Regions from separate parts of the Homo sapiens genome. Here region 2 is linked to region 1. The links come from fine-mapping of genetic effects on gene expression. Tissue or cell type: subcutaneous fat. Region 1 holds a variant in brackets; the other region holds the start of a gene. All regions are shown on one strand. Distances are between the middles of the regions.

Region 1 (2,683 bases):
CTGAACGTACAGGTTTGTCACATAGGTATACATGTGCCACGGTGGTCTGCTGCACCTATCAACCTGTCATCTAGGTTTTAAGCCCCACGCGCATTAAGTATTTGTCCTAATGCTCTCCCTCCCCTTTGCCCCCACCCTCCAACAGGCCCCTGTGTGTGATGTTCCCCTGCCTGTGTCCATGACACTGCCACCTCATTTTTAAAGGCTGCCAATGAAGAGATTTTGTACCAAGAAATGGAAAAACCAGCAAGTCAATGCCTTCCCCATTTTCCTCATGTCTGGTGCAATTGCGGCATTTGCCCATATGACAGGCACTTGGTGCACCTTAAGGCCATGTTTAATGCCAACATCAACCAATTCCCCGCTGCCTGATGTTGACATTTTGTATGCCTGATGTGTATGGCCTTTCTTCCTGAAACTTTCCTGAATTTCCAAGGCTGGGCCGGGTGTTCCTCTTCTGTGCTCCTATCTTTTCCTCCTACCTCAGTGGGTTACACTGTTTACTTATTCCTACCCTGCACTAGACTCCAAGGATACTCCAGGCTGGCAGGGCCGTTGTCTCTTTTTCAGCACTGTGCCCTTAGCACACAGTAGATTTCAATATTCTTAGAATGAATGAATGACAGTGAGAAAGAGGATGAGTCAGAGGTTTTGGAGAATTTTAGATGGCTGCACGCACTGAGTGGTGTGTCTAAGGGGGGAATCTTGGCCCTGCTCCCAGCCAGTTCTGGGCAACAAGACAAGTGGTCACTTCCACTCACAGACAAGCAAAAGTGGGCTCTGGAATTTCTGAAATGGGGTGCCCATGTTAATGGATCAAACTAATCAATGTGCAAAAGAAAAATGAACTTACAGACATTTCCAGAGTCTGTATCTACAAAGCTAAGGATGCAATGTAGTAATACAAATCCCAGCTGTTAGTGTATGGTTTGGACCAAGAAACTCTGCACACACAACTTGGCCAGAGCAGGGAGAGAAGCAGAGCAGGGAGACCAGACTGGACCCACTGCAGGCGGGCGGGAGGCCCATGTGGATTTAAGCCCGGTGCCAACATTCGTGGCTATGACTGGCTGCCGTCCAGCTCTGGGCCTCCATCTGATAGGATGGAGTTCTCAGCGGTGATGTGGCTGGAGGCTGGCTGCAGGCACGGCTGCCTCAAAGGCTCCTGGGAAGCACTAGTCTCCCAGCGGCAGTGGGAGGGGTTGGAGAGGCCAGTAAATAGGAGGAAGTTTAGACAGCATCATTCCCTTGGGCACTGGCCGCTTCTAGGT[A/C]ACAAGTAAAAACTCCTAGCAGAACAGAAACTTGGCTGGGAGAGAACAAAATGTTTTTGAAGCTGCTGAGTGGACCTTTTATCTTTGAGTGCAGCCATTGCCTTCCTGTAGTCTCCGAGTGGCCACGGGCAATTTCTGTGCTGTCTTCGGAGCAACATTGTCGAGGCCGGCCACTGGACGGAACTGGAAGGAGTGTCATTCCGGGACTTCTGACAGGACAGCCTGTTTGGGACAATGTGTCAATCAACAACTGCTTGCTGAGAGCCTCGTTGCCATGTAGGCAACTGTCTAGAAAGAGGCTTCATAACAGAGTCCAGGTTCCTCCTCAGATTAGGGACTCATTTCCTCTCCCCTCTACAAGCCCAGTGTTGTCTACCTTGAAAAGACTCACAAATGGAACCGCCCTGACCCACATCTGCACCCCAGACCTAGTTGCAAAGGTCTGCAGGGATGTCTCGGACTGGACCTGGTCACATTTCTCCCATCTTGCTCCTCTGAGGAAAGAGTGCCTTTGCCCCTGTTTTAGTCAAGTTTCTTACCTACAAGTGAAAAAAAAAAAAAAAAAACCCTAATGTGAACCACCTAGGGGGGGTAAGAGGACTTTACTGTCTCATGGTGGCGGAACATAAGAAAAAGCAACCTTTTAGGGGGTATACTGTGTTGAACAGTATCCCCTGTGAGATTCTTGTCTGCCTGGAATTGGTGAATGTGACCTTATTTGGAAATAAGATCTTTGCAAATGTAACTACATTAAGATGAGGTCATACTGGATTCTGGTGGGCCCTAATCCAATGACTGGTATCCTTGGAAGGAAAGGGGTATTGGGACAAAGACACACAGGGAAGAAGGACATGTGATGGCAGAGGGAGGGATTGGAGTGACGCCTCTACAAGTCGAGGAGTGACAAGGACTGCCAGCCACCACCAGACACTGGGAGAGGCATGGAACAGGTTCCTTCCCAGAGACTTTGGAGAGAACACAGACCTGCTGATACCTTGATTTCCGACTTCTGGCCACCAGAACTGTGAAAGAACACATGCCTGCCATCTCAAGCCACCCAGTTTGGGGTTATTTGTTATGGCAGCCCCAGGACACTGATATAGTGGATGCCGTGATGGTCCCCATTTTAAAGATGAGAAAACTAAGGCACTGAAGTGATTAGTTATTTGCCCAAGGTCAGGCAACTAATAAGTGGTAGAGCTAGGATTGTTTAAAACAGCTTTATTGAGATATAATCCACATACCATACAATTCACTCATTTGAAATGCACAATTCGGCAGGGCATGGTGGCTCACGCCTGTAATCCCAGCACTTTGGGAGGCACAGGTGGGAGGATCATTTGAGGTTGGGAGTTCAAGACCAGTCTGGCCAACATGGTGAAACCACATCTCTACTAAAAATACAAAAATTA
Region 2 (2,683 bases), 96 kb before region 1:
GCTCCCCAAAGACCATGGGTGTTCCTCCATTGTTTGAAAGATGCCAGACTAATGTCTTCCTTCGCCACTTTTGGGAAGACATGAGAGTATCCAACGCTGGCCACTACTCATTAGGACCTGGAGCCAGGTATCCACTGAGGGTGACGAGAGTACTGGGCGCTGGGCTGGCATCTGTGTCCTATGTCCCCAACACCTCAGACTTCCACGTTCTCCTCCCACCCAGGGCCCTCCGCAGCGCCCCCTTTCGCCCCCAGGGAGCACGACACCCGCAAGGGCCACCCCCACGCCCGAGCCCGGAGGGCGTCCGAGCTGGTGCGGGGGCAGCAGGTGGGGGGTGAGGGAGGTGGCCCGGGGACCCCGGGGAGCGGTTTGGCGGTTGTCCCCCCGAACCCCCACCCAGCCTCCCCCTTCGCAGCCCCCCGGGACCCCGCCTCGCCCCGGCCAGGCTCCGCTCCGATCGCCCGCCCCCCTCCTCCCCCGCGCCCCCGGCCCAGCCGGGCCGCGCAACCCCCGCCCCACACCCCCGCCGGCCGCGGCGCGCCCCCCCGCATTCCCAGCACGTCCGGCGCCGACTTTTACCTGTACTTTCTGTACTCGAGGCGGCTCGTCGGGCGAGAAACACCTCCCCGGGACCGCTACCTCCCCCGCCCCGGCTCCGCCCGGCTTCCTCCTTCCCCTCCAAGGCCGCAAAGTAGATGGAGTAAGAGAGTGTGTGTGCGAGAGAAAGAGAAAGAGGGAGCGGGCGCGGGCGCCGCGGGAGGCGGCGGGCGGCGGGCGGCGGGCGGGAGGCGCGCCCGGCCCCCGCCACCCTCCGGCCGCCGCCGCCGCCGCCGCGGGCTCGGCAACTCCGGATTGCGCCCGGCCCCGGCCCCGGCCCGGTCCCCGCCGCCCGCCGCCGCCGCCCGCCGCCGCCCGCTGACTGGGGCCGGCCCGCGCCCCCGCGTCCCCGTACCTCGTAAAGGTCCCCAGAAGCCATGCCAGGCTGCGGAACTTGGCTCGCCGGTGTGCGCGTCTGCTCGCTCGCGCCCTCCGTGCGTGTGCGCGCGGGGTCCGGTGTGCGCGTGTGTGTGCGCGCGTGTGTGTGCGAGTGTGTGTGGTGTGTTGAGTAAACTGTGTTTTTGCAGAATGACAGGCTTGGGGGCTGCCTATGCGCAGAATCAGAGCGGGCGGCGGCGGGGCTGGCGTAACCGGCAGCAGCGGCGGCGGCGGCGGCGGCGGCACGAGCGCGGGCAGCAGCGACGGCCGCGCAGCGCGCCCGGGAGGCACGGACGCGGCCCGAGCGCCGCGGCCCCCGCGACCCGGCGACCCGGCGGCGGTGGCTGCAGCCGGCAACGGCTCGCCCCGGCGCCGCCTGCAGGAAGCCGCCCGGCGCCCGCCGCCGGCCCGGACGCTGCTGCCACTGGGCGAGTCCCCGCCCCCCGGGAGCCCGGCCCGGCCCCCGGGGCGGGGAGGCGGGGGCTGCTGCCCGGCCGCGCCCCGGGGGACCGGTCCCAGAGTCGACTAGCGCTCGGGCCCGCCCCGCCACCCCGGGCCGGCTTCGGGAGCAGCTGGCGGGGCCCCCGGGGGGCGGCGGGCCAGGTGCCCGCCGGGTGCGCCCGATCTGGGGCCGCGAAGGGGCGGCCGGGGAGCCAGGTAGAGGGCTGCGGCTGCAGACCTCAGGGAAGGGGCCCCAGCCGAGCCCCGCCGGCCCGGGGTCCCCACCTACCTCCTCCACCCTCGAGGGGAGTGGACGCCGCCTGGGAGACCTGGCCCCTCGGGGCTGCGCGGCCCCTCCCTCCAGGCTGGGTTGTAAGATGTGGAGGCCACAGGGAGGAAGGATGAAATGGCCCATCCAGAGGCACCATGGGGATCCAGGACAGGCGTGGCCACCCCATAAACCCTGGAAAGTCTTTAGAGCCAGGGGTGGCCTTCCCTCAACAACCCCTCTCCCCGAATTTATTCACTCATCCCTTACTCAAACATTTACCAAAGTCAACCCAAGTGCACAGTGTCCCTGGACAGGCAAAACTGGGACCCTGCCCAGAGACAGTTTGAATCCGCAAGTGAGGAGTGTAATGGAGCACTCAGTTGTTCTAAAAGGTCATCCTGCGTGTGACAGGCTGCGGAGCTGGAGGAGCTAGAGAAGCTCTCCAAAACCCAAATCCGTTCCTAAGCCATCTCTCATGGATAAATGGTCACCCCTCTGCTTAAAGGGTTCTCCTTATAAATATTTATGTATATAGTTACTTCAGAACCTGCAAGGTCAGACTTCTGAAATTGGAGGGAAGATCTTCATCCCCACCCATGAAATGCCTGCCTGGCTCCAGATGTGATGTATCATTAACTCACATGCTCCCTGGATCATTTTCTACTTGGGAGGCTGTGGGCAGGTCACCGAACCCTGATGGGAGATGGTGATAGTCACCTAAGTGATTTAAATAGAATTAAGGAGAGGATCTACGTATACATGAAGTGACCTGTCCATCCCAGCAGAACTCAATAAAGGTGATTTGTATCTGAGTCTCAACCTGGACTGCCCTCATGGAGAGTGAGATGGCAGAGGGGCTCGATAAATTGTTTAATCCTGAGGTTGTCAAACTTTGAAAAGTCACCAAATTTTTTAATCCAAAAAAAAAAAAAAAAAAAAAAAACTCCATGGAACCTGAAGCATGTCTGGCTCATTCCAGGACACATGGATTTGCAT

What was found. PIP is the estimated chance that this variant, and not a neighbour inherited with it, causes the effect.
Region 2: it holds the start of CDYL2, and the variant in region 1 is fine-mapped to the expression of CDYL2 in subcutaneous fat (GTEx, PIP above 0.99). The same link has a PIP of 0.9 or more in left ventricle, tibial nerve and visceral fat.

What each region holds. Positions count from the first base shown.
Region 1 is chr16:80,899,327-80,902,009 of GRCh38, forward strand. No RefSeq gene overlaps it. Among named protein-coding and RNA genes, the nearest start is that of ARLNC1, 8.1 kb to the left of the region's middle. The variant A/C (reference allele first, on the strand shown) is at 1,272.
Region 2 is chr16:80,803,198-80,805,880 of GRCh38, forward strand. CDYL2 (chromodomain Y like 2) reads right to left here and starts at 1,401. Exons shown (of 7, transcript NM_152342.4): 1 at 953-1,401. The coding sequence starts at 976. RefSeq lists silencers at 182-331, 612-681, 1,292-1,601, 1,622-1,681.